Linked DNA regions of Homo sapiens: regions 2, 3, 4 and 5 are each linked to region 1. Evidence: fine-mapped expression QTL. A gene starts in region 1. Each other region holds a variant in brackets. All regions are shown on one strand. Distances are between the middles of the regions.

What was found. PIP is the estimated chance that this variant, and not a neighbour inherited with it, causes the effect.
Region 2: its variant is fine-mapped to the expression of ADAM10 in whole blood (TOPMed, PIP above 0.99).
Region 3: its variant is fine-mapped to the expression of ADAM10 in thyroid (GTEx, PIP above 0.99). The same link has a PIP of 0.9 or more in lung.
Region 4: its variant is fine-mapped to the expression of ADAM10 in fibroblasts (GTEx, PIP above 0.99).
Region 5: its variant is fine-mapped to the expression of ADAM10 in whole blood (TOPMed, PIP above 0.99).

What each region holds. Positions count from the first base shown.
Region 1 is chr15:58,747,519-58,752,624 of GRCh38, reverse strand. It overlaps ADAM10 (ADAM metallopeptidase domain 10), which reads left to right and starts at 2,918. Exons shown (of 16, transcript NM_001110.4): 1 at 2,918-3,145. The coding sequence starts at 3,091. RefSeq lists enhancers at 2,299-2,478, 3,569-3,698, 3,150-3,785 and silencers at 2,549-2,838, 3,169-3,458.
Region 2 is chr15:58,570,814-58,575,919 of GRCh38, reverse strand. No RefSeq gene overlaps it. Among named protein-coding and RNA genes, the nearest start is that of LIPC-AS1, 75 kb to the right of the region's middle. The variant A/G (reference allele first, on the strand shown) is at 1,963.
Region 3 is chr15:58,376,442-58,381,547 of GRCh38, reverse strand. No RefSeq gene overlaps it. Among named protein-coding and RNA genes, the nearest start is that of LIPC, 53 kb to the left of the region's middle. The variant G/T (reference allele first, on the strand shown) is at 2,569.
Region 4 is chr15:58,467,968-58,473,073 of GRCh38, reverse strand. All of the region lies in intron 1 of LIPC (lipase C, hepatic type), which reads right to left. All of the region lies in intron 2 of LIPC-AS1 (LIPC antisense RNA 1), which reads left to right. Among named protein-coding and RNA genes, the nearest start is that of LIPC-AS1, 28 kb to the left of the region's middle. The variant C/T (reference allele first, on the strand shown) is at 3,116.
Region 5 is chr15:58,603,972-58,609,077 of GRCh38, reverse strand. The region is part of intron 14 of ADAM10 (ADAM metallopeptidase domain 10); the gene reads left to right. Among named protein-coding and RNA genes, the nearest start is that of LIPC-AS1, 110 kb to the right of the region's middle. The variant G/A (reference allele first, on the strand shown) is at 2,593.

The DNA.
Region 1 (5,106 bases):
TTGTAACACTGGAATACCATTCATTATCATGCTGGTATGTAATGCCATTCGTGCATGCTGGTATGTAATGCCATTCGTGCTTGACAAATAAAAAAAATACAGTTTTTCTTTTTTTTTGAGACAAGGTCTGTCTGTGTTACTCAGGCTGGAGTGCAGTGGTGTGATCACAGCTCAATGCAACCTCAACCTCCAGGGTTCAAACAGTCCTCCCATCTCGGCCTCCCGAGTACCTGGGACTACAAGTGCATACCACTGCACTGGCTATTTGATTTTTATTTTTAATTAATTAATTAATTAATTTTTTTGAGACAGAGTCTTGCCCTGTCTCCCAGGCTGGAGTGCAGTGGCGCCATCTCGACTCACTGCAACCTCCGCCTCCTAGGTTCAAGTGATTCTCCTGCCTTAGCCTCCTGAGTAGCTGGGATTACTTGCTTCAGCCTCCAGAATAGCTGGGATTACAGGCACAGGCCACCACGCCCGGCTTTTTTTTTTTTCCTAGCTCTGTCGCTCAGGCTGGAGTGCAGTGGCGCGACCTCGGCTCACTGCAAGCTCTGCGTCCCGGGTTCACGCCATTCTCCTGCCTCAGCCTCCCGAGTAGCTGGGACTACAGGCGCCCGCCATCACGCCTGGCTAATTTTTGTATTTTTAGCAGAGACGGAGTTTCACCATGTCGGCCAGGCTGGTCTCAAACTCCTGACCTCAAGTGATCTGCGGACCTTGGCCTCCCAAAGTGCTGGGATTACAGCTGTGAGCCCCGTGGCTGGCCAAAATAAATACATTTTAAAAATTAAAAAAAAAAATACAGTCTTTATAAATGTAATTTTCAGTAATCATCTTAGTAATGCAAAATATGGCTTTGGAGTTTTTTCCAGTTGAATTTTAAGGGAAAGTGCCATTTGCCTCTAATCACTGGAATTCATTATAAAAATACTGTGCAACAGAAAACATGCTATAAGGTGGTTTAAGAGCTGGAAAATAAAAATATCATTTGTTGACAGCACTACCACAAGAGATTAGTAAAAAGCACAGGTGATATGAGATGTAATGTCTGCAGGTAACTATTTCCTAAGACTGAATATTTTAATGAAGGAAAAAAAAACCATTCGTGAGATTCTGCCATCCTTTGATGATTCCATGTATCTCATTATAAATGGATACAATTATGATGGTTTTGAAACGTCCGTTTTTGAGCCTATTAATGTTGCAGCAAAACTAGAATCATTCATTTCTCAAACTGAGAATTAAAGAAGACTCTTATGGCCAGGCTCGGTGGCTCCCACCTGTAATCCCAGCACTTTGGGAGGCTGGCGGGCGGATCACCTGAGGTTGGGAGTTCGAGACCAGCCTAACCAACATGGTGAGACCCCGTCTCTATTAAAAATACAAAAAATTTGCTGGGCGTGGTGGTGCATGCCTGTAATCTCAGCAACTTGGGAGGCTGAGGCAGGAGAATCGCTTGAACCTGGGAGGCAGAGGTTGCGGTGAGTCGAGATCACACCATTGCACCCCAGCCTGGGCAACGAGAGCGAAACTCCGTCTCAAAAAAAAAAAAATTCTCTTCACTTATGTTAATGGTAATAAATGGTATAAAATATACAGGTAACAGTATAGGAATTCCAGTTTATTACAGTATCAATAACATTAAGGCCGAGCGCAGTGGCTCACGCCTGTAATCCCAGCACTTGTGGGAGGCCGAGGCGGGAGGATCGCTTGAGTTGGAGGTTACAGTGAGCTATGATCACACCACTGCACTTCAGCCTGGCGAGACAGCGGATACCTTGTCTTTAGAAAGCAAAACAAAACAATTTACACACACACACACACACACACACTCTCCCTAATTCGGCTTGAGTTGGAGGTTACAGTGAGCTATGATCACACCACTGCACTTCAGCCTGGCGAGACAGCGGAGACCTTGTCTTTAGAAAGCAAAACAAAACAATTTACACATACACACACACACACACGCACACACACACTCTCCCTAATTCGGCCTACTCAAGCACGATACCAAATAGATGAAGAATATCTAATTAAATGGCCATAAAAAGTTCTAGTTCATGACATCCAAGTTTAAAGAATCAAAATGAGTTACGAGAAAACAAACACAAGCTTTAAGAAGTTGGGGAGAAGATGTGCGTGGATTCGCTTCAAAGATGTGACAGAGAGAAAAGAGGACATTTTCTGGACTGGAGATTCAAGACAGTCTGGTTCAGGTTGCATGCTTTTGCAAAGGCTAAAGCCTTAGTCTGTGACATAAATTTGTAAAGAGCTCGGAAAATTACATCTCGGACATGGTGTCTTTTTTTCCTGCTGCTTGAAGGTCTTTGCATTTATGTTCGCATCACTGGGGCAGCTGCCGCTATAATTACTGCTTGTTGGGACTTTTTGTTTACTTGGTAGCTGTGGTGCACCAAGAGAGGCAGAAAAAGAAGAAAAAAAACCTCTGTTACTTGTGACGTTAAGAAGTCGAAAGCAGCCCTGCTTACATCTTCCACGGACCATTTTAGCCCAAGGGAAGGTCCTCAGCAGCTCTAACACGTAGCGGAGCACTATCTCCGCGTAGGAGCGCTCCCGCCCCGGGGCGGGACCAGGACAAACCCCGCCTCCCAAGCCCAATCCCAGCTCTCCGCCGGCGGACAGGAAGCGGCGGCAGGCCTAGCAGCACGGGAACCGTCCCCCGCGCGCATGCGCGCGCCCCTGAAGCGCCTGGGGGACGGGTAGGGGCGGGAGGTAGGGGCGCGGCTCCGCGTGCCAGTTGGGTGCCCGCGCGTCACGTGGTGAGGAAGGAGGCGGAGGTCTGAGTTTCGAAGGAGGGGGGGAGAGAAGAGGGAACGAGCAAGGGAAGGAAAGCGGGGAAAGGAGGAAGGAAACGAACGAGGGGGAGGGAGGTCCCTGTTTTGGAGGAGCTAGGAGCGTTGCCGGCCCCTGAAGTGGAGCGAGAGGGAGGTGCTTCGCCGTTTCTCCTGCCAGGGGAGGTCCCGGCTTCCCGTGGAGGCTCCGGACCAAGCCCCTTCAGCTTCTCCCTCCGGATCGATGTGCTGCTGTTAACCCGTGAGGAGGCGGCGGCGGCGGCAGCGGCAGCGGAAGATGGTGTTGCTGAGAGTGTTAATTCTGCTCCTCTCCTGGGCGGCGGGGATGGGAGGTGAGGCACGACTGCGAGCGCCGGGGGCGCCGCGACCACGGCGGAGCGGCGGCCGGGCCGAGCGGAGCCCAGTCGCGCCTCGCGGCGTGCGCGTCAGTCAGCCCAGCCGGCCAGCGGCGCCACTCTGGCGGGCCGCGCTCCCCGCTCCCTATTGTCCCCCGCGCCCCGACCGCTTTCCCTTCGGTGGCGGGCCGAGGAGGCTCCCAAGCCTCCGGCGAGGCCTTCCCCGCCCCCCACCGCCCTGGCGGCCCCGGGAGGCGGGGGTCGCCTCCCAGAGAAGCGAAGTCGGGGCATCCGCGTCGCCTGGTGAGAGCGGTGGAACCCAGGCTGGTGGCTGCATCCCTCCAGTCTGCTCGGCGGGCGCCGGTGCAGGCAGCCGCAGCGAGGCTGGCGGTCTCGCCGTCCTCGTTCAGCGCTCATCCTGCTCACCATTCCTCCCCCAGCCCCTGCCCGGTGGCGGATTCCGAAGTCCTCTCCGCCGCCGAGACCCGCCGCGCAGACTCGTGGGAAGTTGTGTTGTTTGCAGCTGGGCTCGTGTATTGTTCTTTACCCGGCGCGCCGGTCCTGACCGACCCCATTCTGCAGAGGGGCCGCCCGTGGAGTGGCAGCAGTCATCACCCGCTTATCTGAGACTAGTGGCCTCGGTTCTTCCTGTGTCCTGTGTTTGGAGAGAGATCACAGGAGGGTGTGTTGGTGTTCTTGAAAACATTCTGTCGCCCAGGGGAAAGGGTTTGGTCGGGAGAAGGGTAAACCATTTGGGGATGTTCTTTGATTTGTAGGCTGGATTGGGTCTCTTAGAGTAGAAGTTCGGTCCCTGGGTGACCCAACTTGAAGAGTTTCGTTAAACTTTCAGGTGGAGTAGATGTACAGTGTAGTTAGTGGATTGTCAAAACAGTGCCCCCTCCCCCCTGCACATGAAAGTCAAATTTGCTAAAAGCATGTCATTTCTTGTTTCGGGTTTTGAAGACAACGATTTTTATTTCCGGTGTGTTCTAGGACCAGCTGCATCATTTTATTCTTGCTTAAAGTGCTTTATTTTAGGTAAGCTTTTTGACTTGCCCCAGAGTAAACTTAAAAACCTCAAGGTGTGCCTAAAAGCAACGATTGAAAAAATTTGAGGAATGCTTTGGATGAGTGTCTGTAGCCTTTGATAATTTAGAAAATATCTATTTCATGTAATGTATTGTTTCTGTTTTTTTCTTTGCCACTTTGACTTATGACTGCAGGACCAAGTGTATTTCTGTCCTGTATTCTACCGAGTCCGAGGGTGGTACTGCGTAGGCAGACTTCTGTTATAGTTTGTAGTGTTCATTTTTTTGTTACACGTTTTATTTAATTTTTTTCAATCCAATTCATCAAGCAAGACACACATTATAGATTAAGAGCTGATAATAGATGTTTAGTTTTAAAAAGGATTATGTGCGGGAGACTCTCTGTTAGAGGAGCCTTTTTCATCTGACATTTGTTATTTCTGTTCTAAACGTGGCTTTCAACAAATCGTTTTCCTATCTTTTTTCACTTTTTGTGATTAAATTCAGGAGTTAAGACACTGTTCTCTATAAGGTAATAAAAAGTAAGACAAACACATGAGGCACTTTACTGAGTAGTAGTATACTAAATGTTCTTTTAAAAATAATGAAAACAGTAAGAAACTGATGTAGTCTTATATTTGAAGAAAAAACAATTGAATAACATGTTTGTGGGTTAAAACTCTTATACAAAAATTTTCTAAATTCATATTTCCAGAGTCCTTTATTGCATTAAGCATTGGTTAAAAGGCTAATTTTTGGTGTTTTTGTTAAGCAGAACTTTTTCAAAAAACATAAGACAAGTTTTATTAGTTTTATTTTAAAATTAGTATCAAGATTCTAGCTTTTGGGTACTTGGAGATACTTGTAATTTTATTGTAACTATGGGGTATTTTTATCTACTAATCTGAGCTATTTTTGGTCACTTGTAAG
Region 2 (5,106 bases), 180 kb after region 1:
CACTTTGGTGAAAACAACAAGCAAACAAAAGCCTTGAGTGTGGATAAATGCTTGTCTATGTTCGAAGGAATAACGTTGCCAGGCTGTTACCAATCTTCACTTCGGGTCGCTGGGGTGGGGAAGAAGGTGGGTGCGGGGAGACGGATGACCAGCTTTCTCTTTACATATCTTTGCATTGTTGCACTGCTTTTATACTCTTATAAAATATCTTTAAAATGAGAAACCTAAAATAACCACATAACAAAACCTAAAAATACATTACAACTTCTGCCCTCAAGGGGCTCACAGTCTCCTGCAGACTGTCTTCAGATAGCTGATGTGTTTGATTTGCTCTCTATGGCTTCCAGGGAAGAAAGCGAGGGGAGAAGGTACGGCAAGGTAGGGGAAGCTCTTTCCCTGGCGGTGCTGGGCCACACCTGTGATATTCTCTTGAGAGGAAGGTGTTGGACTCCGTCAGTGTTGCCCCAGTTTTCTGAAGAGATGAATTAGCCCGGGTACTTGTTGAAAAGAAAAATCTTTAGGATCTGTCCTTGACCCGCTGAATTCGAATCTCCAGGGGAGGAGTCTGGGAAGCTTTATTTTTTAGTGCCCAGGTGATTCATATCATTGGGGAAAGTTGGGAAACACTGGTCTACATTCACGCTGCTCAGCGTGGCCTGGGAACCAGCCGCAATGGCATCGCCTGAGAGCTTGTTAGGAATGCCTGCTGTCAGGATGTGCCCCAGACCTACGGTGACAGAAATGCCAGTGAACAAGGTGCCTGTGCACAGAATGGGTTGAGAGGGATGTTGTAGATGACCCTTACAGTTATTCTCTAATTCTATCTTATTTGACAGGAAGATAGCTCCAAGACACTGGAAAATTCTTTTTGTGATAGACGTGTTTCAAAAGTAAAAATGTAGTCAAGGAACCCAAAGGGATTTTGATGAACTGATTGAGGCAGAAACTGAGCTAACGTAAGAGGAGGCCGGCAGGGCCAAGAGATGAGGGAGGGAGGAAGTCAACCGCCTCGCCAACCTGGCTTTGTTTCTAAGCTGAATGAGGAAGCAGTGAACTCTATCTTGGACAGGTGTGGTAGCTGAAGCTTCTGATTTAATCAAGAGGAAAAAAATACAGATAAGAAGAGATACCTGTCACTTATTAACTCAGCAAGCATTTACAGGATGCCAACTCTGTACCAGGTGATAGGCTGAGCACTGGGAATAATGCAGTGAACAATGAGAGCCTCTCCCTGACTTCACCAAGCTTCAAGGCCAGTGGGGGAGAAAGGCAGTAAAGAAACCATTTCAAAGATCAGGCCTACGGCTAGGGTAAAGCTAGTGAAGCACTTGCCTTGAGTGCAAAAATGTAAGGGGGCTCCAAAAACTCAGTTATCAAGAAAATTTTTAATGCAAAAATTTTTCTAATGGAAATGAATGCAAAAATCTATGATACATAAAATATAAACATTTTGCTGTCATGGTGGCTCACATCTAATCCCAGTGACTTGGAAGGCTGAGGCCGGAAGATTGCTTGTGTCCAGGAGGTTGAGGCTGCAGTGAGCTCTGATTTGGCCACTGCACTCCAGCCTAGGTGACAGCAAGATCAGGCTGGGTGCAGTGGCTCACTCCTGTAATCCCAGCACTTTGGGAAGGTAAGGAGGGTGGATTGCTTGAACCCAGGAGTTCAAGACTAGCCTGGGCAACCCTTGTCTTTATAGAAAATATAAAAATTATCTGGGCTTGGTGGCATGCACCTGTAGTCCTAGCTACTTGGGAGGCTAAGGTGGGAGGATCCCTCGAGCTCAGGAGGTTGAGGCTGCAATGGGCTGTGATCATGTTACTGTACTCCAGTCTGGGTAGCAGAGTGAGACCCATCTAAAAAATAAATATATAAATAAACACAGGTTCACTATTACTGATTTTTCCTTTTGCCTCAGGCTCCAATGTGGCTCTGCATGGCATGGCCACAAATCATTTCACC[A/G]GGAGAATAAAAAAACATTGACTATGGATGGCAGGGTGAGCTGCTTGAAGCTCGGGTAGGATGAGATAATTGTTAAATGATCTCCCAAGCAGTAACACCTAACTTGGAGCTGCAAGCATGCAATGGAGGAGAGGTGGGAGTGTAAGCAACAGAAGGGGCCAAGGAGAGAGCTTTGCGCTTTTGAAGGAACTGAGGTGGCTGGTGTTGTCTAGACCTCTGGGTTTCAAACTTAGTGCATATTAGGATCACCTGGGGAGCTTTCAACAGTCTTAATCTCCGGGCCCTGCCCTAGTCCAATTAAGTAAAAAATCTCTAGGTGTGGGGCTGAGGCAGGGCTAGTTTTTAAAGCTCCTCAGGCATTTCTAAAGTGCACGCTAAACCTGGGCAACATAGTGAGACCCCTGTCTCTACAAAACATTTAGGAATTAGATGGATGTGGCAGTGTGCACTTGTAGTCCCAGGTACTCGGAAGGATGAGCTGGGAGAATTGTTTGAGCCCCAGGAGGTCAAGGCTGCAATGACTGTGATTGCACCACTGCATTCCAGCCTGGGTGACAGAGTGAGACTTTGTCTCCAATAAATATATAAATAAATAAAAATTAAAAATAAAATGCAGGCTGGGCGGACACTCCGTGGGTGGAGCTGGACAATGGCCTAGTGAGTGACAGACAGAGAGTAATGGGAGGCAAGACTGGGGAGAAAAGTAGGGGCTTGACTGGGAGCCTTGAAGGCCAGGGTAATTATTTTGGACTTTTTCCAAAAAACGTGGGAGGTCATTGGGAGGGCTTTATGCAGGAAAATGATATAACCTTTTTTTTTTTTTTTTTTTTTTAAGATCACTCTGGTCGCTGTGAGGGGAAGGGATTGAGAGGGAGGAGGGTGTCTGAGGGATGAGTTGGAAAGTTGTTGCAAATGTCTGGGTAAGCGATAGTTCGGCTTGGGCTGGGTTGATGGCAGTAGAGGTGGGGAGACATAGACACGCTTAAGAAATAAGAGTAGAATTCATGGAATATGGTGATCATTGGATTGTGAGGGGCCAAAGGGGAGGACACATAATGGATGACTCCCCAGAGTCCACCACCAGCAACTGGGTGGGTGGTAATGACCTTCAAGGAGATAAACAACAGAGAGAATGGGGATGAGCAGGTTCCAGGGGCAAGAAACATCATGCATTCATTTTTGGATGCAGGGAGAGATGACACAGCGGGAACTGTGGAATGGACAATTGCATAATATATGGGAATACGGGTCTGGAGAGAAGGCCCAGGCTGGAGCTCTACACTGAGAATGGTTGGCCTATGTGGTTGATCATAAATAAAGCCATAGGAGTGGGTGAGATTGCCTATAAAGAGAGAAACGTGCGAGTAGGGAAGGAGGTCTGGGCTCCCCTGGAATGGTTGAATGGAGGGCAGGGAGCAGCAGGGAGGCTGGGAGGTTGGAGGGGAATCAGCGGGGCACAAATAACTAAAGGCCAAGTGGATGGCGGAGAGCGTCACTTATGTGATTGCCAGGCGCTCAGAAGAGAGAAAGATCTCTGTGGCCTGGCCAGGCTAGGAGGCAACTGGTGAAAATAACTGGGCCTGGGTAGATAAATAGGACTAAGTTAGGCAGAGCAATTCCAGGGGAGAAAAGAAAAGGAGGAAGGGATAAGAGAAGGGAAGGAATGAGATGTGTCGGGAGCCATTAATCATGTACGGATCATTGGGATTCAAATAGAAGTATGTATTATGGGACCATGTAAATGGTCCCTTTTGGGACTGACTTTCTTTAGTCTTCATCTTGCTTGTCTATTTCCCATCCCTCTGACTTTACTTTGGTCCAGCCTCTGTGGGAGGGCAAGCACAGCACTGGGCAGCTTTACCCCTTGCCTTGCTGCCCCACAGACGTGTATTGCAATCCAAGCTTTTGCAGTATTTGCGGCCGACATGACTCAAGGTGAACATTGAGGACAGGGAGCTTTGCGATGCAGCAGAGTGCGTTCATTTTAATGTTGAATGGAGTGCTTGTTTCCTTCTCTCTCTGACTTACTCACCTCAAAGAGCCCAGCTGCAGTGTAATCGACATTCCATTTCTTTCCCAGTGCTCTCTTACAAGAGAAGCACAAATAAGCTTTTGCCTAAAAGGCAAGATGCTAGTGTTATCTTTCCTGAGTGGGCTCATAAATGCAGATTCTTTGGAGAGAGGTGTGTATAATCAGTTCACGAGCCAGCATTTTGCATGTGCAACGAACAGATGTGACTGCATTATTCAGTTTCCCAATTTGACTTCCCTACTCGAATATACTTAAGAAAATGTGATGTCGATGAACACATCCCTCCAAGTGAAAATAATCCACCGACAACAGAATTGGCAACCAGATTTGGACATGCCAAGAGGAGTTTCAAATGTTCCAGTTAACCACTTGTCACGTTGGATGCTTGTTGAATTCTCTGCCCAAAATGTTACCATGTATTGTGGCACTTCAAGTTTTCTTACTAAAGATGAAATAATTTCTAATTATATTGCTTGTGAAACTATATTACTTTTGAAACATATCACACTATAGTAGAAACATGTTTGTTTAACTCTGCCCTTTATTTTCCCTTTTTAATTTTCACATTGTGAAAGGTGACATTCATACTAAAAAGTGCGTGAAATGTAGATGTATATAGAACGGTTAAATCAGTGAACGTGTGTGTACCCACCACCTGGAGTAAGAAGTAGACTATTGCTGGCACCTGGAACTCCAGGGTGCCCTTCCTCTTTCCTGGGATTATCACAGCCTCACTTTTGTGATAATGATTTTATTGTTTTGTTTCCTTTTGTGATAATGATTTTATTGTTTTGTTTCCTTTTGGTTTTTTTTTTTTTTTTTTTGAGACGGAGTCTCACCCTATTGCCCAGGCTGGAGTGCAGTGTCGCGATCTCAGATCACTGCAACCTCTGCCTCCCGGGTTCAAGGGATTCTTGTGCCTCAGCCTCCCAAGTAGCTGGGATTACAGGCATGCGCCACCATGCCCAGCTAATTTTTGTATTTTTAGTAGAGACCGGGTTTCACCATGTTGGCCAGGCTGGTCTCGAACTCCTGACCTCAATTGATCAGCCTGCCTCAGCCTCCCAAAGTGCTGGGATTACAGGTGTTTATCCATTGTTTGTATCATACTA
Region 3 (5,106 bases), 370 kb after region 1:
AGCCCATAATAAGTGCTCAATAAATTCCTGAAGGAGAAAGAAAAGAAGGAAGTGTTACCATGATTATATCAATAAGAACATAGAAATAATTCAGGAAAATGTTCAAATTCCCTAGGGTCAAGACCAGGCCTGTGTTACCTATGTTAAGGGAATAATTTAGTCTACAAAAACAGGTAAATAGTTTTGCTACAAGTAAAAAGCTGATGTTCCTAGAAAGTCTGGGCCAAAGATGGATCAGCCCAGAACATTTGTCTTAACAATGAAATAAGTAATCACAATCAGACACTTTTTTTTTTTCTTTTGAGACAGAGTCTCACTTTGTCACCCAGGCTGGGGTGCAGTGGCCCCATCTTGGCTCACTGCGCCCTACACTTTCCAGGTTCAAGCGATTCTCCTGCCTCTGCCTCCTGAGTAGCTGGGACTACGGGGACACACCACCGCCCCCTGCCGCCCCCCAGCTAATTTTTGTATTTTTAGTAGAGACAGAGTTTCACCATGTTAGCCAGGCTGGTCTCAAACTCCTGACCTCAAGTGATCTGCCCGCCTTGGCCTCCCAAAGTGCTGGGATTACAGGCATGAGCCACGGCACCCAGTCATCAGACACTTATTTTGTAAAGAATTATTGAATTCACCCATACATGGTCTGTGTGGATATAGTCTGGAATCCAGGTGAGAACTGATGGAGTATTTATGGAGAAATGGCTGATTATAGGACAAGGATTTCTAAATATTCTAGGGAACTGACTAATATTTCCAAAGATTTCCTATTCTCCAAGCACAGGAACCAGCTGGAGTGGAGCCAAGGCTCAGGCTTGGTCGGGGCAGAGCAACTCCTCTATTTCACTTGTTAGATGTCCTAAACCATTTTGTCCAATGTTATTGATGCAAATTGGTGGTTGTGATGGTTAATTTTATGTGTCAACCTGACGGGGCCTTGGGTGTCTAGACTTTTGGCTAAACGTTATTCTGGTGTATCTGAGAGGATGTTTTTTGATGGGACTAACATTTAAATTGATAGACAGACTGAGTAAAACAGATTGCTCTCTCTAATGGGGCTGGGCCTCATCCAATCAGTTGAAGACCTGAATAGAAAAAAAAGGCCAAGTAGGAGGAAGTTCCTTCTGCCTGACTGCTTGAGCTGGGACACTGGTCTTTTCTGCCTTTTGGCTCAGACTAAAACATTGGCTGTTTTTGGGTCTCAAGCCTGCTGGTTTTTGGACTAGAACTTTCACCATCTACTCTCTCGATTCTCAGGCCTTCAGACTCAAACTGGAACTATACTTTGACTCTCCTCAGTCTCCAGCTGCCTGACCACAGATCTCGGGACTTCTCAGCCCCCATAATCTTGTGAACCAATTCCTTATTTTATATATGTATACTGTCATGCTCTGCATAATGACATTTAGGTCAATGATAGATCACATATACAATGGTGGTCCCATAAGATTATACTACTTTAGCTTTTCTATGTTTAGATATGTTTAGATACACAAATACTTACCACTGTGTTACAACTGCTGTCAGTATTCAGTACAGTAACATGCAGTACAGGGTTTTTAGCCTAGGACCGATAGGCTCTATCATATAGCCTAGTTGTATATTTGACTGTATCGTGTAAATTTGTGTAAGTACACTTTATGTTGTTCCTGTAACTGAAATGCAGATCCAGTCATTCACTGCTTGCAGAGTCCAATTAACAAGAGTGAGGTCTGATATAAAGGAACTGCTTTATATTCTATTATAAAGACACATGCACATGTATGTTCATTGCAGCACTATTCACAATAGCAAAGACATGGAATCAGCCTAAATGCCTATCAGTGGTAGACTGAATAAAGAAATGTGGTACATATACACCATGGAATACTATATAGCCATAAAAAAGGAGTGAGGTCATGCCCTTTCCAGAGACATGGATAGAGCTAGAGGCCATTATCCTTAGCAAACTAATGCAGGAACAAAAAATCAAATACTATGTGTTCTCACTTGTAAGTGGAAGCTAAATGATGAGAACACATGGACACACAGAGGGGAACAACACACACTGGGGCTTATTGGAGAGTGGGGGTGGGAGGAGGGAGAAGATCAGAAAGAATAGCTAGTGAATGCTGGGCTTAATACTGGGGTAATAAAATAATCTGTACAACAAACTCCCATGACACAAATTTACCTGTATAACAAACCTGCGCATGTACCCCTGAAATTAAACTAAAAGTTAAAAAAAATTCTTCCAATCTATGAACATGAGATGTCTTCCCATTTATTTGTGTCTTTTAAATTTCCTCCATCGATCTTTTATAATTTTCAATGTACAAATTTTTCATCTCTTTCGCTAAGTTAATTACTAAGTGGTTTCTTTTCGTTGCTAATATAAATGAGATTGTTGTTGGTGTATAAAATCACCATTGATTTTTGCATCTTGATTTTGTATCCTGTAACGTTAATAAATTTGTTTATTAGTTCTAAAAAAAGTGATATATTATATTTCAAAGCTAGCTTAGGGGAAGAAGTACAGGCTTCTTGTCTTAAGGGTAGCAGGTGCAGAAAGTAGGAATTATTTTAAAAGGG[G/T]GCTTGGCATGAATGGCATGCAGGGGAGAAAGCAATTGGATGGAGGTCCACATAATTCGCTTCAGTGCCTTATCTACTGGGCCATTGAGCTGGCGCCTTCATGGGCAGAACTAGGTTTTAAAAGTGTCTGAAACTCTCCAGGTGGGAGAGAATTTTGTAGTGGGCATACTTAGGCTTGTAAATTGAGTGTTGCTCTCGAGGCAATCTTCAGCCGGGAGAGAGTTCCACTCTGGAGCCCCTAAGCATATAGTTAGATGAACTTGCCCTGTAGGGAATGTCTGGTGATGGGGAGGTCTAAGTAGGAAGTGAGGAACAGGGGAAAAGGAGAAAGGAGAAAAGAAAAGAAAAAAATCATTCTGTTTTTCTTAGACGAATGGGAGTACTTGGTTACATTCCTACAATGACAAAGCTGCCTTCATGACTCATTTCTCAGAAAACAGTGCTGTAGTTAAGCGATGCATGACTCTATCTGTCTATCTATCTGTCTGTCTATCTATCTATCTATCTATCTGTCTATCTATCTATCTATCTACCTATCATCTATCTATCTATCTAATCTCCTATTGGTTCTATTTCACTGGAGAGCCCTGCCTAATACAGTTGTTTTAATTATTCCTCATTTCCAATGTACTTTCCTCCTTGACTTTCATTATGGGTGGAGCAGGCTCTGTTTGATTCTAAAATTATATGAGGAAAATATAAAGAGATAACCACAAAATTGCTAATTTTTTTGGTGGAGGGAATCTGTTATGTGGATAAAGGATTAGTCTTAATACTATATTCAAGTTAAGTTATTAATTCACTGAATTTTTATGGAGCACCTACTGTGTGGTAGGACTATTCCAAAGAAGCAATGATTTCTGCCCTTGTGTATGTATGTTTTATTTTTATTTTTTAATTATTATTTTCTTTGAGATGGAGCCTTCCTCTGTCGTCCAGGCTGGGGTGCAGTGGCGCGATCTCAGCTTACTGCAAACTCTGCCTCCTGGGTTCAAGTGATTCTCCTGCCTCAGCCTCCTGAGTAGCTGGGACTACAGGCGCCCACCACCACGCCCAGCTAATTTTTGTACTTTTAATAGAGATGGGGTTTCGCCATGTTGGCCAGTCTGGTCTCAAACTCCTGACCTCAAGTGATCTGCCCTCCTTGGCCTCCCAAAGTGCTGGGATTACAGGCATTAGCCACCCTGCCAGCTGTGTGTTTATGTTTTAAACAAAGGATAGAGACAATAAGCATGATAAATAAGTCTAACTATATTGTGTGTTAGAGAAAAATAAAGCAGGAAAGGGGAGTGGGGAGGGGTTCAATTTTAAGTAGGGAAGTCCTAAAGGGCTGCATTGAGAACTGTATTAGAAAAATGACCTGTACGAAAGTGTATTAGCTTCCTATTGTTGCTGTGACAAATGACCACAAACTTAATGGCTTAAAACAACACAAATTTATTCTCTTAGAATCCTGGAAGTGAGAAGTCCCAAATTGGGCTCCTGGGACTAAAATTAAGGTGTCAGCAGGGCTGTGTTTCGTTTGGAGGCTGTAGGAGAGAATTCATTTTCATGCCTTTTCCAGTGTCTCTAGGCTACATTCCTTGGCTTGTGGCCTCTTCCTCCATATTCAAAGCCAGCATTATCAGGCCAACTCCTTCTCACACTGTCATTTTTTTAGTTCTTGTTCCTTTGCCTCCTTCTTCCATTTATAAGGACTCTTGTGATTTCACTGGGCCCCCTTAGATCTTCCAGGATGTAGAATACCAAAACTATGCCACTCCAAAATACGACTGTAGGAGGCCAGAATGTGCTACTCCAAAATATGCCTCTTTAGCATGAGGATTATTTTTGAGCTAATTATTCTAAGAAACTGTAGACACCAGAGTAACTCTAAAAACAAAGAGTAGAAGTTACCCTTTTGTAAGGGAATTGTATTTTCTAAAGGAAATCCCCATTTGTAAGGTACCTGCTCTGTACCAGGAAGAGAAGAAATCCTCCAAATCACTAGAGACTTTTCTCAATGGAGAAGGCACTGAGTAAATCCACAGGAAAAACCTTGCTCTTATTACTGTGCTTTTCCTGACCTCCCCAAAACTGGCGCCCTTCCTTCCCCTCTCATCCCCCTCTCCCTCCCTCCCTCCCTCCCTCCTTCCTTCCTTCCTTCCTTCCTTTCTTCTGAAGATGACATTTGACCTGAACTAAAAGCAACTTCTTGGAGATTTACTCACTTTTCCCTGGGTATCTTTCTTGTATATATATAGTAGACCTGTTAATAAACTTCTGTTTGTCTCTTGTTAATCTCTTTTGTTACAAGGGTCCATGCCAATAAAAACTCAGAAAAAGGGGAGGGAAATTATTTTTCCTCCCCTATAAGGATAATCTCATCTCAAGTCTAGCTAATTACGGCTGTATCAATTTGTTGGGGCTGCTGTAACAGAGTACCGCAGACTAGATAGCTTGAACAACAGACATTTGCTTGTAATTCTGGAGGCTTAAAGTCTGAGGGCAATGGGTTGGCAGGGCTGGTTTCTTTGGAGGTCCCTCTCCATGGCTTGT
Region 4 (5,106 bases), 280 kb after region 1:
GGCTGCCGTCCTCCCCCTCCCCAGCTGTCCAGGCGTCCAGCTCCCCTCTGCCAGTGCTAGAGGGTAGGGTGGTAGTGTTTTCAAAGTTAACAAAACCATGCCCCTTTCTGAGTGAAACCCAAGTTCAGATGATTCCCTTCCCCTCTTAGTAACAGCCGTAGTCAGACACACCTGGGTTTGAGTCATGGCTTAGCCCTTGGCTAGCTTGAATGCTCTAAGCCTCAGTTTCTTGGTAAAATGGGGGCAATACTAGCAAACCTCATAAGGCCGTTGTGAAGACAACATGGAATACAGTGGGTGAGTACAATGCTTAGCCCCATGCCTGGCACTTACTTGCCTTTATTTTTTCTGATCTAAATTATTACAATGATTTAATTATAATTTTAAATTTATACAATTTGTTTTATAATTCTTTAAATATAATTATATCTATTTTCCCTCTCCCACAGGCTGTGAGCCCCTTGAGGGAAGGGGCAAGATTTTTTTTTTTTTTTTTTGAGACAAGAGTCTCACTCTCTTGCCCAGGCTGGAGTGCAGTGACAGGATCTTGGCTCACTGCAACCTCCATCTCCCAGGATCAAGTGATTCGCATGCCTCAGCTTCCTGAGTAGTTGGGATTACAGGCGCATGCTACCACACTTGGCTAACTTTTGTATGTTTTGGTAGAGACAGGGTTTCACCATGTTGGTCAGGCTGGTCTTGAACACCTGGCCTCATGTGATTCACCTCCCTCGGCCTCCCAAAGTGCCGGGGTTACAGATGTAATCCTGCTAAGATTTCTTTTTTTTTTTTTTTTTTTTTTTGAGACCAAATGTCACTCTGTTGCCCAGGGTGGAGTGCAATGGTGCAATCTTTGCTCATTGCAACCTCTGCCTCCCAGGTTCAAGTGATTGTCCTGCTTCAGCCTCCCGAGTAGCTGGGATTACAGGCACGTGCCACCATGCCTGGCTAATTTTTTGTATTTTTCGTAGAGATGGGGTTTCACGATGTTGATCAGGCTGGTCTTGAACTCCTGACCTCAGGTGATCCACCCACCTTGGCCTCCCAAAGTGCTGGGATTACAGGCATGAGCCACCACACTTGGCCTGATCTAAGTACCCAGTAAATGTGTAAGGGGCTGAGAAGGGTGAGCTAATGCCTTTATGGCCCCAAAGAGCTATGTCCCCTGCCCTCAGGGAGCTTCACTGGGGAGCCCAAGGGTCATTGAGAGGGGTGGGAAAGGGCACGTGGCTGGACTGGTAGGGCAGTAAGGGCAGTTGTGATTGGGTGAGGAGGGTGGAGGAACTCCAGGTGCCTGCCCTTTCTAAGCCTCTCTACATAATAAATATTGAATAGTCATGCATTTCTATTTGGCTCAATTCATTCATTTGGTTGATTCAGAGTTTTGGAGCACTGACTCCAGAAGTTTCTTTTAGGCAAATCTCCATTCACTATTCAGCTCACCCCTAGATTACTGCAGTGTATGGCACTCAGACTGCCTCTTGCTGCTGCCATGACCATGACAGATAAGGCTAATGGATTACAGCATTCTGTCACCCTTAGCCTGATGTAATCTTAGAGTTCTTCTGCATAAAGCAGCCATTCCTGATGGAATAGAATCCTCACTTGTGTTTAAAGCTACTTATCAGCTGGGTGTGATGGCTCACACCTGTAACCCCAGCACTTTGGGAGGCCAAGGCTGGTGGATCATTTGAGGTCAAGAGTTCGAGACCAGCTTGGCCAACATGGTGAGACCACCCCCCCCCATCTCTACTAAAAATACAAAAAAAATTAGCTAGGCATGGTGGCGAGTGCCTGTAATCCCAGCTACTCGGGAGGCTGAGGTAGGAGAATCGCTTGAATCTGGGAGGTAGAGGTTGCAGTGAACCGAGATGACACCACTGTATTCCAGCCTGGGTGACAGAGTGAGACCGCATCTCAAAAAAAAAAAAAAAAAAAAGAGAAAAGAAAAAAAAAATCCTACTTACCATCTCTGGCCTAGACCTTAGGTCATTGGGTATGTCCTGAGGCCTCCATAAATTTCAAACCTTATAATTTCTCCTGCAAAAATACTACCATGCTTCAATTCTCTCCACCTTTCTTTATGGAAGCTTTTCTTACCCATTTCTAGAAAGATTAGAGAGGTGTTAGGTATTAGGAAGATGAAAAGGAGGCAGACAAAAGGACGAGTCTTCCTCTATCTACTCATACTTTCAAGGTGTTTGGCAAAATCTGAAGTTTTGACTTGGGCGGATCACGAGGTCAGGAGATCAAGACCATCCTGGCTGCTAATAGAGTGAAATCCCATGTCTACTAAAAATATAAAAATTAGCTGTGTGTGGTGGCTGGCACCTGTAGTCCCAGCTACTGGGGAGGCTGAGGCAGCAGAATGGTGTGCACCCGGGAGGCGGAGGTTGCGGTGAGCCGAGATCTCGCCACAGAACTCCAGCCTGGGTGACAGAGCGAGATTTCGTCTCTACCAAAAAAAAAAAAAAAAGGAGTTAAATGCAATTCTTTCTGTATTTTTGTCTTTTCCAATTCTGTATTAAGCATGTACTACTTTTCAAAGTAGGAAAAATGTGTTTTATAAAATGAGTAATTTTATGAAAAAGTAATTTTAAGTTACATTTAACAATTGAGTAATTTTATTAAAATTTTTATTTAAAATTTTATAAAAATGCTTTTTACTTCAAAAACTTCATAAAAATTTCTTAGACTTATTACTATATACCCTTTCATACCTTTGTGACTATAATACCTAATAAAAAATAAAAGCTGGTCTTTGGTTTTGTACATAGGAAACACCCTCTTCTCTGAACAAATCTCTCATTTACAGTCTTTTAAAATTCAAAGAATGCATTCCAGCTGGGTGCGGTGACTCATGCCTGTAATCTCAGCACTTTGGGAGGCTGAACCCGAAGCACTGTTTGAGGCCATGAATTTGAGACCAGCTTGGGCAATGTGGTGAAACCTTATCTCTAAAAAATTACAAAAATTATCCGGGTGTGGTGGTATGTACCCGTAGTCCCAGCTACTCAGGAGTCTGAGGTGGGAAGATCCCTTGAGCCTGGGAGGTCAAGACTGCAGTGAGGCATGATTGCACCACTGCACTCCAGTTTGGGTGATAAAGGGAGAC[C/T]TTGTCTCAAAAAAAAAAAAAAAAATTCCATGAAGATGAGGAAGGTGATGGAATGTCATCCAGCATTGAGAAAAATGTGACGTGCCCATCAGCTCCTCTATTCTCTTGGGGGAAGTGCTGCCGCGGGGAGGTCCTAGCCATTGTTCCATTCCTTTCTTGCATCTTCTCAACGAGCTTTGTTAGTAACTGGAATCCACTGGGCCACGTTTTTAGTAGAGGGTAGGGTCACTTCACTCAAGGAGTTTTGCAACGGCCACAGTGTTTCTCTGCTCTGGGCTGTAAAGCCTGGTGGCCAGTCCTCCCGAGGGCAGGCCTGAAGGTCCCAGTTCTCTTACCTGTCTATCTGCCTGGTGACTGGGTGAATGGGCAGCCCCAAGCTTCTCAGCTTCCCTGCCTGAGCCAGGTTGGAAAATGAGGGTGGCCTGTTTTTGGGAAGCTGGTGATCTTTAATTGAAAGGGGGTGGAGCAGAAAGCATCACTATGGCTTTGAGCCCAAGCCAAATCCCCTCTCCCACACTGAGGAAGAGGAGAAAAGCTGATTTTCTTCCTTTGTGCTCTTCCTTTGGTAATCAGTACTCTAAATGGTTGAGACCCAAGTGGGCCAAGAGCTGAGCTGAGAGTTCTGAGTACTCCAACATGCTCAAAAAACTATATTCCTTAGGGTGGGTATGGTGGTTCATGCCTGTGATCCCAGTGCTTTGGGAGGCTGAGGCAGGAGGATTACTTGGGCCAGGAGTTCAATGTTAGAGTAAACTACGATCATGCCACTGCACTCCAGCCTGGGCAACAGAGTGAGATCCAGTCTCTTAAGGCGTACACACACACACACACACACACACACACACACACACACACAAAATGTTCCCTGAAGCCGTTTAAGTTATTAGAAAAAAATAGAACTATGGTGAACTAATGTTTAATGCTTACCATACCTCATCATGACGTTTTCAGATCAAGTGGGATAGCTCTGGGCAGTGGAGCTTAGGTACATTAAGCAAATACTTCATAAACGTTAGTAGCTGTGCAAACAAGTGGGCATGAGGTGGAGGCTTGACCAGCCAGAGTGTCCAAGGTTCATAGGGAGGAAAGGAGCCAATTTACTGGACCTGGGTTGTTAAACACATAAACCCTTAATGAATTAAAAATATTACCAGCCTAGCAGAGTTCCATGGAGTCTGGGTGGCAGCTCTGTAGTTCTGTGGTTGTCAGTCCAGGCTGTCTTTAGATCTGAACTGGTCTGGGGTGGGCCTTTCTGTTATAAGTTCCCTAGATGATTCTAATGAGCTTCCAAGGGTAAGAACCTCTGCCACAGTTAAATGGTGTCACTATGTATTAATCACAAATCCCCTGATAACGTCACAGGGTTGGACAGCTTAACTCATGTTAGGAATCACATTGAGATTTGTGGACCATCCATCTCGAGTGGGCGGCAGGGCTAGATCCAAAGGCAAATTAGTATTCCATGGAGCTTTGGTTCTCAAACGGGTGTGCATCAGAATCTTCTGGAGATCTTGCTAAAACCCAGATTGTGGGCCCTCATTCTCAGAGTTTCTGATTCATTAGGTCTGGGGTGAGACCCTAACATGTCTAACAAGTTCCCAGGTGATGCTGATGCTGCTGGTTTGGGGACAACACTTTGGGAATCACTGTCATGGACATAGGTGTTCACTCTGAGAGGCGCTGCTGGGGAAGCAGAGAGAGCAAGGGTCTGGGAGGTGGCCGTGACCTGGGTTCAGGTCCATGATTCATGCAGGTGCAGTATAGACAAGGGTAAGCCAAGTGATCTCTTTTGAACCCAGTATTCTTATCTATAATCTGGGGTAATATTAGCTGCTTTGCCTTTCCCCAAGCATTGAGTGGGATAATGAGTAATCACTGGGCTTTTATCATGTACCGAGCATTTTACATGCATCATTCCCATTAATCTTCTCAACATTTATAGGAAGTGGGTCCTATTATTTTACAGACCCAGAAACTGAAGTTTAGGAAGC
Region 5 (5,106 bases), 140 kb after region 1:
ATTCTGTGACTTCAAGCAGCTTACCTTTCTTGGCCCTTCTTTATTTTCAACTCAGCTATTTTTTTTTCTGATTGTCTCTAATAAGAAAAGTTGAAATTTGGTATACTTGTCTGCTGTAGAAGACAGTGTATACAGAAAACGAAAGGAGATCTCAGAATTACATTCTACTGAGTATATATTGTGCTAGATATTTTAGATTTTTGGGGTACTAAGTCATATCTAAACATAGCATTTTTTTACTTTTCTCTGTTATCTCTAATTTTCACTCATTACATTATTTAGAATTTCAAAAGCCCATTTATTTTCACTTTAAAAATATTTAATAGACATGATCTTTTAAGTATTTTTAAGACCTTTTCTCCCCATATTTTAGATGTGAGGATTAATGAAATGTTTCACAATGAATTGGCAACATGAAGTCCTTTCTTGTGCTCTGGAACTAATTAATCAGACACTTTCAAGTTCATAGACGTTGACTTTAAGTGTGTGTGGGATAGAACATGCCTTTATTTTATATCATTGTTGACAGGCATATGCCAGTCTTTCGAATAGCATGCTCATAATGTGTGAAGAGTACCGCTAGGCTGTTGGTGCATTTGTGGGCATTAACCACATCAAGCAGTAAGATAATAAACATCTGGTCTTTACAAGTTACTTGTCTCATTTGCTTATGTGCATAGTTTACTTGCATACCGGGATTTATCATGTTAGGGAAGTGCCCTTCCAGTTAGTAATACAGATTATCAGGATGCTCTTGTGTAAGAAGCTGTGAAAGAAGTGAGGGGTTAGTTTCACTACTTTCCTTTCCAGTGGTGCCTGGTGGCGTTTTGTCTTCTTTCTGTGTTACACTATGGCAGCTTTTCTCCTCATGCAGGGTAGAGTAGGAAGAACCTTAACAATTTAGAACTTCAGGGCATGGGTTATTGACTGCTGCTACTGGTACCACGGAAGTGATACTTTCTTTTCTGTGTTGACAACTATGTTTTGATTTTTCCAAATACATTTACTGTATTTGCTGAGTGCCTACTGTGTGTTTGGACAGGATAAAATGATAAACATCCTTTGGATTTATCAAAGAGTCATCTAGTTCTTGAAACATTTAAGAGCATTCATCAGTAAATCTGTTGAGACCTTATTTCAGCATCTCCTTTTCTTTAATTAGGGATTGAGGGCATTGGTAATTCATTTCCAGTTTCTTCTATAGTTGATGTGTTCTGATTTTCTGTATCTTTCATGTTAGGTTTGACATTGTAGAAAACTACCTCTTACCTTGACTTTTATTGTTCAAATGTATTGTTGTGTTTCCCCTCCTTTTAAAAATCATTGCCTGATGATTTTGTGGCTTTTTTCTTTTTAACTTGTTCAGATTTATCAGGAGTTTGTATTTTTGTATTGCTAATTTATCAAGAGTCAAACACATTCTCATTTTAAAATTAGTTTCTGCTGTCATATTTTGCTATAATTTTATGCATCTAAGTAGTAAGTATCTGGTATTCTTTATGAATGAAAGATTTAGAGCACTGTTTCCCAAATGCTTAACAGAACACTAGTTCCATTAGATGTTCTGGGCCTTCAATGGTCAAATGAATCTGGAAAACTACTCCATACTATAGACCTTTCTTGGAGATTTGTGAGAAGACCTGCAATAAATAAATCGTTTAAACTTCATTTTCCAAACTTACCTAACCCTAGAAACTTTTATGATGAAAAGACTAAGTCCTAAATATCCTTAGATGTCATTTGGAAAAATATTGATTAATAGCAGTAGTTCTCAATCCTGATTGTATACCAGAATCACCCTAGGGTTTGGACTAATTAAATCAGAATCTCTTGGGTTTAAGTATCTGGGTCTTTTAAAACTCTCCAGTTAATTCTGATGAGGAGCCAGGGTTAAGAACCACTCATCTAGAACAGGGGTTGGCAAACTATGGCCCATGGGCCAAATCCAGCCCGTGCCTATTTCTGTATGGCTCAGAAGCTAAGAACGGTTTTTACATTTTTAAATGATTGAAAAAAATTTAAAAATTATCAAAACATTCTTTTAAAAATCATATGAAATTCAAATTTCAGTATTGATAAATAACATTTTATAGGAACATGGCCACACCCATTTGTTTACACATTGTCTTTGGCTGCTTTTGCACTTTGAGTAGCTGCAACAGTGACTGTATGGCCCCACAAAACCTCAAATGTTTATCTGGGCTTTTATGGGAAATATTTGCCAACTCCTGATCGAGAGCGGTGATCTCAAAGTGTAGGCCTGAGAAGCAGCATCAGCATCACCTGGGAACTTCATAGAAATGCAAATTCTTACGTTCCATTCCAGACCCACTGAGTCAGTAGGTGATGGTGCGTGCTAATAGTTTGTCTGCCATTTTTTTCAGTCTCTGTGATATGTGACTCCTTTTTAAAAAGACTTGTAACAGAAATTTTCCATTTTATCATCTTGATATGTTGAAAATAGAAGGTGGTTTCATTGCTTTGTGGAACAGACCACATAGCATAGCACTTAATGAAACTTTAACAACAAAGATATAATGATATTGTAAGGTTTTCAGCATATAGTGAGGACACAGTATACATTTGCTAGAT[G/A]AATGAAGCAGATTTCTCAAATGTAATAATTTATATGGAAAAGAGTAAAACTTGTGCATATTAACTTTGAAACTGGAATGTTTTCAGGTTCCTGTTAGTGGTATTTTATCTTACTTGCCCAGGTTGAGCTTAAAGTAACCAAAAGTTTAGTAGCAAGTTGCTTTCTGCTTGGCAGATCGCTGTTGCTGCTGCTGCTAGTGGTGGTGGGAGTTTGAAGGATAGGAGGAGTATATATTCAAAGCCCAGACTATAGTATTATGTCTTCTGAAAAATTGAAAGGAAACTTTCTGCCCCTATAGGGATGACATAATCAGTATCATGGCAAGGAGCTCTGGGCCCCACATGGTCTTGTGACCCATGGGAAGTCCAGAATGCATTTGCTGAGAGTGAGCGTTGTTGAACACTGCAGTATTCATTGAAAGGATCATATGGTTGACTTTCTGGAGGTCTTTAAGAACAGTAGATTATCTTATGTCTGAAGAGACTTGAGTGCATGTCTTCCCTGTCCTCGCTCATGCACTTTTTTTTAGATGATACTTGCTTTGTCATTTTGTTACCATATAGGTTCTTTTTGTTTATATTTAGATTATCAAATTAAATACTATTGTAATTAATACATAATAAATTAGACTATTTAATTTTGACTTTTTACTTTATTATTGGCTATGTTTAAGTGCCTGTATTGAACATCATCTCTCTTTTTCTTATGTAGAATTATTTTCTGAGTTGAGAAACTTCTTGAGTTTTTGAAAAATGGTTGGATGTCTTCTCTTTGTCCCTAAAGTTTTGCTTAACACCCTTGTCTCTGGGATATAAGACCCTGGCACTCAGTTTACGCTCAGTAAATGTTCATTGAATGAATGACAGCTCCCCTTTCTTTCAGACTAACAGGTGGGCAATTTGTGATCTTTTCTTTTGAGAGAAATGCATATTTTACATTTACTACCCTAGTTAGTATTCCTTTCCCTGATTTTATAGTATATTTAAAGGGGATAGCATGTAATTTAGCATTTAACTCATTCTTTTTTTAAAAAGGAAAACTATAAAGGTGGCCGTACTTACTAATATTTTCAGATGCACTATTTATTTTGTTTAGTTTTTCTTACTGTCTTTTGTCTATTGCCATGTTCCATTTCCCCACACGCTAAATTCACAAAAGCTACTATCATTGGCACTAAAACATCTCAAGCATTGGGCTTGTGAGATACATAGTTACCTGAAAAAATTTAGAAGAAAGCCAGGAACACTGTGCTAGAAGGAACTGGAAGTTCTGAAGGGCTTGAGTGCCATATTTTATTATACATCTGTTGATCTAAACTGCGACTAGGTTCTTTTTACCTTTGTTTTCTACAGTTTTAACCACTACTAAATCTGGGCTTTCTGTCTCCAATCTGCCTCTCTTACTGCCATAGCGTGTACTCGTATGGCTCTTTATTTAAATCTATAGGCCAGGTACAGTAGCTTATACCTTTAATCTTAGCACTTTGGGAGGTTGAGGAGGGAAAATTGCTGGAGACTAGCAGTTGAAGACCAACCTGGACAATCTAGCAAGACCTGTGTGTGCAAATAAATAAATAAATGAATTCGCAGGGTGTGGCGGCATGTACCTTGTAGTCCCAGCTACTCAGGAGGATCACCACAGCCCAGGAGGGCAAGGCTGCAGTGAGCCGTGATTGCACCACTGCATTCCAGCTTGGGCAACAGAGCAAGATCCTGTCTCTTAAAAGAGAAAAAAAAGAGTGTGTAGGTACTAAAAAGACTATCATTAAATATATCCAAACCAGTTTTACTGTCCTATCTCTGTTGTAACGGCCTTGTCACATTATTTGTATGTGTTAGGCAATCTGGAAGTAATAAATGAGCTGTTAGTTATGTTTCAAGGTCAATATTTAAATAATGACTTACTTGTAATAACTAGTTCAACAGGTATTTTGTTTGTTGGGTAGGTACTGAGGTAATAGGATATAAGTCCAGGGAGCTCACAGGTCAGTTTGGGATAGAGAAGACAGGCCAGAGAAACATATCTTCAGTCTGTGTGCTGTTTTCACAGAACTGGGAGAACCTATTAGGAAAAGCCTTTAAGGAGATAACGCCAGAGCTAAGTTCTTTGTTTATTTTTATTTTTGAAATGGAGTCTCACTCAGCCACCTAGGCTGGAGTGCAGTGGCGTAATCTCGGCTCACTGCAACCACCGTCTCCCAGGTTCAAGCGGTTCTCCTGTCTCAGCCTCCTGAGTAGCTGGGATTACAGGCACCTGCCATCATGCTTGGCCAATTTTTGTATTTTAGCACAGATGGGGTTTCACCATGTTGGCCAGGCTGGTCTTGAACACCTGACCTCAGGTGATCCACCCGCCCCGGCTTCCCACAGTGCTAGGATTACAGACATGAGCCACCGTGCCCGGCCAAGCTAAGTTCTTAAGAATTAGTAGAAGTAGAGAGTACAGAAATATTTTATGGGGACAGAGCATGTGAAAAAGTCACAGAAGTATGAATTTTGCAAAACATTTTTTTC